Homo sapiens: one gene and its partner. The protein of the gene in region 2 purifies or fractionates together with the protein of the main gene of each other region. This does not show direct contact. Each region holds a gene or a part of one and is shown on either strand. Other genes may lie near its edges.

Region 1 (3,825 bases), on a different chromosome or scaffold from region 2:
AAGTGGAATTGCTGCATCAAAACATTGCACATATTTAACATTTTGGTAGATGTTGACTAATTGCTTTTTGAAGACGTTTTGTGAGTTGAAACTGCCAGCAACAGTGTTTGAGGCCTATGCCTAATTTCTGCCTACTCTTTTTTTTTTTGAGACAGGGTTTTGTTTTGTTACCTGCAGCCTTGAAGTTTTGTTGTCGTGCTAGCTCAAGCTAAAGTCTGACCACAACCCTTATTTGGAGGAATTCTTGGTATCAGTAATTGTAGCTTTATGAGGAAATTTAAGTATCTAGGGTAAAGTGTAACAGATTCTTTACTACGGTGATTTTTGAAGGGACATTAATGTTATCTATATGTTTGTAGTATGGGGTGTATCTATCATATTAATAGTTTTATTATCTTAATATAAACGTAGATGTTTTTCAGAAGTAACTGTTTTAGAATCTTAGTTTAATAAGATAATTTTATACATTAATTTGTTATATGTAGTGGTTTATCTTGTTCATTTGGTCTTTTAACAAACATTTTAAGAGCAGGATAGCCAACCTTCATATGAAATACTTGTTGAAATATATTTTAATTTCAACCTTTTAAATTCTTCAGGGTTTTTTTTTTTTTTTTTTTTTTAGAACTGAGCAAAATTGTAAGCTCCTGGCTCTTGTTTTGCCCCAGGACTATAATACTACTTTCAGTGTTTTCCTTTTTCTTCAAAATATTTAATAATCAGTGTTCACTGACATTTTATTACATTCTATAAGATTACTCAATATTTATTAAGTACTTGATATTTATTTGCATAATATTAACATTTTAAAAATTAACTTTTGTTTTTGAAACAATTGTAGTCTTCCAGAAAAATTACAAAACTAGTAAGAGTTGCCTTTTGCCCTTTACCCACCTTCTTCAGCTGTTAATATCTTAGCAAGTACAATGATCAAAACCAGAAAATTAACACTAATACGGTAATACTGTATTAACTAATCTATACACCTTATTCAAATTTTATTTATTCAAATTATATGCAGTGGTTATTATTAGTGTCCTACTAGTATTCTTTTTCTCATCCAAGATCACACGTTGCATTTAGTGGTCTCTTCCAATCTGGGTGAGTTCCTCAGTCTTTAGTCAGTGTCAAAGTAATGAAAAACAATCTTGTTATCTCTCAAATTGGGTGTTTCTGCTGCTTTTTCATGATTAAATTCAGATTATGTATTTTCGGCAAGAATATCATAGAAATGATGTTTTGCCCTTGTTAGTGCATCGTACCAGGAGGTACATGGTGTTCGTATGTCTCATTAATTATAGCGTTAACTCGGCTAGGTCACCAGGAATTTTACCAACTGTTGCTTTTGTACCAGCAATGTGATGCCAGTATGAAAAAGATAACTTGTATCTTACATATTATTGTGAAAATACTTTTGACTTCATGAAGTCCCTCAAAGGGTCTTGAGGATTTCCCTAGAGGTTGAAGAATAACACTTTAAAAGTCACTGCCCTGGAGAGAATCTCTATTTGAGCACATAGAAGCTTGTATAAGAATGTTCACAGCAGTTACTATGGTTTTGAGATAAATAAAATTTAAAAAAGAATGTTCACAGCAGTGTTGCATGTAAAAACAGAAAATTGGAAAAAACTTAAATGTACCTTAGCAGGAGACTGGATAAGTTGTATGAATTTGTATAGTGCAGTACTGTATAGAAGAGAATGTTAAGCAAATAAAGTAAGTTGCAAAAGAAAACCTACGGTCTGTTAAAGTGCGGAACAAAACTATTTTAGGGTAGGGTTTTGCAGCCTTGGCACTATTGACATTTTGAATTGGATAGGATAATTTTTTGTTATAGGAATGTCCTGTGCATTGTAGGCAGGCATCCCTGGCCTCTACCCATTAGCAGCAGTAGCACCCCACCTCCTTGTGGCAACCCACAATATCTCCAGACATTGCCAGATGTCCCCTAGTGGGGGCAAAATTGCTCCCAATTGAGACTCATTGGTTTAGGGATATGTACATGCGTGGTAAAAGTATGCCACGTAAAGGTAAGATAAACACTAAATTTAAGAGAGTGGGACATCCTTATGGTGAAGGGAGTGGAGAGCACGATTGGTGGAAGTACACCAGGGGCATTTAAGTATTTTGGTAATGTTCTGTGATTAAACCTACCCCATGGTGAGTGCATAGGTGTTAAACACACACACACACACACACACACACACACACACAAAATTTTATTTTTTTTGAGACAGTCTCCCTCTGTGGTCCAGGCTGGAATGCAGTGGTGTGACCTCGGCTCACTGCAACCTCCGTCCCCCAGGTTCAAGCAATTCTCCTGTCTCATCCTCCTGAGTAGCTGGAATTACAGGCATGCACCACCACACCTGACTAACTTTTGTATTTTTGGTAGAGACGGGGTTTCACCATGTTGGCCAGGCTGGTCTCGAACACCTGACCTCAAGTGATCCATAGCCTCAGCCTCCCAAAGTGCTGGGATTACAAGTGTGAGCCACCACACCCAGCCCTTTCTATATTTTTGTGTGTGTCATATTTTTGTACTTAATTTAAAAAAAAGCCTTATATTTATCAGAGGGAGAACTGAGGTTGCCTTTGATTATTCATCATTTGTTCCCTAGTTCCACCTATATTATATGAATAGAAAATTTATTGCAGTATGATTGGGAATTAAGAAATGGGTAACCTTCAGCATAAGATTCCTTGCAACTTTTCTGGGAGTTAAGGATTCTGGAGTGGTTGGATCATTGTGAATCTTTCTGATACGATTTTTCTCACTACATTTTGAAGATTTTGTCTGGGAGTTGTATGCGGGTCTCTAATATTTTGGCATATCAGCTTTATTTTTTCTTTCAGGACACACATGATATGTTTGAATTTATGGTCTAGGATAGTTAAACTTTGCAGAGAGGAGCATTTAGTATCTGTTTGAGTGATATAACGTCTGTCTTGTTTCGAGATTCATTTGGCTCATTTGTAGTGAGCAAGAAGATTTTGGGACTATATGGGATGTTATTTAATTAGTTTGGACTAATTTTGTAAAGTCTGTAGTCAAGTAGGTATAGTTGACTTTTTATCATCTAGGCACTGATTTTATAGGAGTTGGAGAAAAATGTGTTTTTATTTATGCTTGCTTTGTGTTCACTTGACTACAGTGTTGTATTGTTACCAGAGATAATGGAGAAAATGAATGTAGATTTCCTGTTAAGGTTCTGTCATTCTTCGTGTCGATAATACAGAGTTAGAGGTATAGAAAATCAGCTTTATTCAAAACCAGCTTCTGGTCATAGTTCATTCAAACTGTTTTGGGGGTAGTTCTTTGTCCTTGTCTTTGACCGCTAGCAAAGAATGCCTCTCCAGTCATACGTGGAAAAACTTCTCAGATGTTTTGTATTCAGTTGAAGGTTTAAAAGGGCTGACCCTGGATTAAAAAAATGAAATGAATTAATAATCCTCAGCTTTTCTTTATCAGAATAGAGTCCCCTATTCTGATCTGTTTCTAGAACCACAGTAGAAAGGGGTATTTGTCAGGACACAAAGCCGTAGGAAAAAACAGGATTTGAGGGAACAATGTTTGGGGAGCAGGATGCCACACCTGGAAAGGATGAAATATCACAAAATGTTTTTTATTAATGACATCTGCAAGGAAAACTTTATTTCCTCATAGATCCTACCTATTTTAAAGGCTTCTGTAAAATGTCTTTCTTATTTTATTTCCTCCACTAAAACAATGTTGTAAATTATGAAAGTCTATCTAGTTCTTAATAGTCCCTGTAGATTGCAGCTTGGTTGAGCTGAGGACTTCAAGAAATCAACTAGTAGACC
Region 2 (4,514 bases):
TTACCTTTACACTTATTTTTTATAGACAAAATATCTATCCCAATCTCTAATGATTCACCTCACAATCTTGTATGTGCTAAGTAAAAATCCCCAGCTAATTGTAAATAGCGCTAAAATAGTGAAAGCAAGCACTAGGTACAAATTGTTGCTGTTCTAAACCCCATACACAAACTAACTCATTTATTCCTCAAAATAACTCTACAACAAGGTAGGTACAATTATAATCCACAACTGCATTTGCAGATGAGAAAATTAAGGCACAGAAAGATTGAGTAACTTGACTGAGTTCACACAGACAGCAAGTGGCAGGGCCACGACATAAGTTGGGCCTTCTGACTTGAGTCTTGCTCCTAGCCACTATATTACACCACAACCGAGCTACTCAGACAACTGGAAATCACTTAAATCGTTTCTTATAAGAAACAAAGAGGACTCATTCAATCATCCTGATTGATAATCAGTGACAGACTTGAGGGAGGAATTGTTTGCAGTGTTAATAATCACCTACTTGCAGATCTGAAAAAGAAAAACCTTTTCCTCAACAAAACTCAAAAACTGAGTTGGACAAAAAAATGTTTTTCTAGTTGGAGACAGAAAGGTCATTTAGTAGTGCCACTGAGATGCTTACCCACAGTTTGGTTCCTGCTTAAAACAGTTTTCCCTGCTGGGCGCGGTGGCTCACACCTGTAATCTTGACACTTTGGGAGGCTGTGCCGGGCAGATTACCTGAGGTCTGGAGTTCAAGATCAGCCTGGTCAACCTGGTGAAACCCCATCTCTACTAAAATTACAAAAAAATTTAGCCAGGCGTGGTGGTGGGCGCCTGTAATCCCAGCTACTCAGGTGGCCGAGGCAGGAGAATCACTTGAACCTGGGAGACAGAAGTTGCAGTGAGCTGAGATTGCACCAGTGCACTGCAACCTGGGCAACAGAGCGAGACTCCATCTCAAAAAAAAAAAATTTTCCCATATTTCCCAAAATAGAAATATTTTCAATAAATCATTGATTCCACTCTTAATCTGCTTACTTCCCATGCAAAAGAGTCAAGGTAATGTCTACTACAAGCAAGATAAAATCATTTCAGACACTACTTTCTAGTTACAGAGTATAGAAATTGTCTCTGGAGAACTATATTTTGATACACATGCTAAACAATAGGAGGTCACTAGGACTCATCTGTAAGACGGTGGAACTCAATTTATCTATTCCCAAATGACTAATGGCAATGCTCATATTTTTTGGACAATTGCTGTTAAGGGATCCAATTCTCCTTATGAATTAAAGAAACTCTATGTTACTTCCTGTCTAAAAGGATTAATGGTTTACTACTAGTTACCAGTTGATGTGGTACTTAAGTTTCCTCAGGGCTAATGACCTGGTGGGGCTTACAGTACTATTCCAGGCCAATCATTGCACAGTCATCTCTTTCAAGAAAGTTTCTAACCAATAAGCAGAAGCCTAACTTTCTGGCTGAAAGCTAAGTGTCCCATATATTCCTGGGTGACGCTGAAGCAGGTTACATTTCCTCAGAAGAAGGCTCCTTGGTGGTAAGTTGAACATTTCTGGGCAGGGTAAAAATCATACTTAATATTATGTCATAAAGTAGATTCTGAGGAGTAGGTGAGGGTGTCAAGGACTATGAAGAGAAGTGTTTTGTAAAAACTAAAACGATAATAGCTTCATTTATAATTTCCCCAGGAAAGGTTACTTGAGAAATGAAGTTGAGGGTTTTTTTAATTCAAATACACAGCTTTAATAACTGCATGAGAGAGACAAGTTTTTATTTATATTTATCTCATTTTTCTAGAACTTCCCTTGAAAAGCCAAATTTTAAGGTATCAATAAGGAAATATAATTCTAAAGCAAGTGTTTTAAGACAGGCCAGTACTATGAAATTGCGAAAATTATTGTGAAGTCTATTCACCTCACAGTCAAATATAAACCTCTCAATTATTGAAGACATTTCATTAAAATGAGTCAGTAGAGCATGATTATTTTACCTAAACATAGCAGAGGACTTTTTTAAGGTATATGACTTATTTCTTATAGATATATGACTTATTTCTATATTCATATTTTTTTAAGGTTTCATGTTAGTATTTGCAAAACAAACAAATGTATGAGCAAATGAAACATTTGGATCTTGTAAAAGATCTAAGAATTCACAGAGACATCATCTTGATGGGATGTATTTTTTAAATGCATATTCTAAAACATAATTTTTTACTTGTTGCATAGGTAACAAAATTTGGAATTTATAAGTTGAACATGTACAGATTTTTATAAACTAGCAAGAATATATTTTTTAGAAGTTTTGTTTTTCATTTTATATGTTGTATAGTATATATTCCTAACAATCAAAATACTTTGCAGTTTCAGCATTTAGTACTGTCAGTGAACTGTGTCTTAGGCTGAGAATATTCTCATCAGCTCTTACTGTATTCAATAAGTAAAGTTACATCTTTTCTAAAGTCACAGTGAACTCCAGTGCACTGAATTCAAGCAAATACTACAAACACAGGTAACATTTTAATGACTGCATTGGAAGTTCTGTTTGCTGGAACAGTTTTCCAGTTATTTATTATCAGATTTAATTACTCACATGACTAAGGTTCCTGGACAGATAAATTTTAGTGAAATGAGTTTAAAATTGTATGTCTTGTAAAATAAAACTGTTCCCTTATATCCCACCCTTACCTAAATATATTTGTATTACTTGGAACAAGTTTAATTTTCTTTTTCAATGACAGCTTTGAAGAACATCCTGAAGATTATATCGGAGACAATATATCAAGAATCTATTTATTGAATCATCTAGAACAAAAGCCAGGAGCTCCCTAATGGAAGCACATTAGTGTTTATTTTGATGAAGAAATATATAGATTTTTTAAAACAACCACAAAGTAGATAGCTCAGTAAAAAATCAATTTTGGAAGATGTCACTGAACAACTCTTCCAATGTATTTCTGGATTCAGTGCCCAGTAATACCAATCGCTTTCAAGTTAGTGTCATAAATGAGAACCATGAGAGCAGTGCAGCTGCAGATGACAATACTGACCCACCACATTATGAAGAAACCTCTTTTGGGGATGAAGCTCAGAAAAGACTCAGAATCAGCTTTAGGCCTGGGAATCAGGAGTGCTATGACAATTTCCTCCAAAGTGGAGAAACTGCTAAAACAGATGCCAGTTTTCACGCTTATGATTCTCACACAAACACATACTATCTACAAACTTTTGGCCACAACACCATGGATGCCGTTCCCAAGATAGAGTACTATCGTAACACCGGCAGCATCAGTGGGCCCAAGGTCAACCGACCCAGCCTGCTTGAGATTCACGAGCAACTCGCAAAGGTAAGCTTGAAGGACACAAGCAAGTCTCCTCCCTTATTCATAACTTCAGATAATTTCCTTCTCTTTCATTACACTATGAATGAATGTGAAACAGTCAAATGGAGAGGTCTATTCCAAACACTATCCATCTTACTTACAAAACTGTCCCTAGTTCCCAGAAAAGTGTTTCACAGATGCTTTTTCTTTGGATTTTTTTTTTTCTTGAGACAAAGTCTTGCTCTGTCACCCAGCCTGAAGTGTGGTGGACACTGCAGCTTTGAACTCCTGGGCTCAAACAATCCTCCCACCTCAACCTCCTGAGTAGCTGGGACTGCAGGCATGCACCACCACACCTGACTAACTTTTTTATTTTTTGTAGAGACAGGGTCTTGCTATGTTGCTCAAGCTGGTCTCGAACTCCTGACTTAAAGGGATCCTCCCACCTTGGCCTCCCAAAGAGATGGGATTGCAGGCATGAGCCACTGTGCCCAGCTCCACAAATGTTTTCTGACTTAGGATAGAGAACTAAAGAATTAACTCTAAATGTTAGGCAATATGTTGTACCTTGTATATGATTATAGTCCACTCAATTCACACTTGGTTAAACACGTCAAACTGAATACCAAGCTGGTTTCACGTCAGTATTAATGTCTCTATGTCAATCGTATAAAAAGCAAAACACTTGTGCTTGCTGTAGTTAATACTGTGGGTGACAGCCTTTAGTGTGTAGGGGTATTTTTTATATTCTTTAAAGAAAGGGCAGAGATTTATAAGATTCAGCATTTTATCCCTTCCTCTTTAAAACTTTGCCTGAGGCTCCTGAATGTGCTTAAGCATATAAAAATAACTAAATTAAAGTACAGAAGCAGCAGAAGTGACTAAACTTTTCATTATTTAAGAAATACAGCCAGGGTTCCCAAGTCTGTTAGAAGTGAGGCAGCACTTTTCCCAATCTTTTTTGAGACGAAGTATCGCTCTTGTTGCCCGGGCTGGAGTGCAATGGTGCGATCTCGGCTCACCGCAACCTCCACCTCCTGGGTTCAAGCGATTCTTCTGCCTCAGCCCCCTGAGTAGCTGGGATTACAGGCATGTGCCACCACCACACTCAGCTAATTTTTTTGTATTTTTAGTAAAGATGGGGTTTCTCCATGTTGGTCAGGCTGGTCTTGAACTCCCAACC

The links.
Region 1: the proteins of SLC12A1 (region 2) and MIB1 purify together in Homo sapiens (affinity purification with mass spectrometry; one large-scale study listed by BioGRID and IntAct). This does not show direct contact.

Annotation. Positions count from the first base shown.
Region 1 is NC_000018.10:21,743,497-21,747,321, forward strand, and holds part of MIB1 (E3 ubiquitin-protein ligase MIB1), read left to right. Parts: intron 1-3,825. UniProt on the Homo sapiens protein: E3 ubiquitin-protein ligase that mediates ubiquitination of Delta receptors, which act as ligands of Notch proteins.
Region 2 is NC_000015.10:48,204,785-48,209,298, forward strand, and holds the start of SLC12A1 (solute carrier family 12 member 1), read left to right. Parts: upstream 1-1,517; 5' UTR 1,518-1,546; intron 1,547-2,749; 5' UTR 2,750-2,935; coding exon 2,936-3,355; intron 3,356-4,514. UniProt on the Homo sapiens protein: Renal sodium, potassium and chloride ion cotransporter that mediates the transepithelial NaCl reabsorption in the thick ascending limb and plays an essential role in the urinary concentration and volume regulation. Electrically silent transporter system.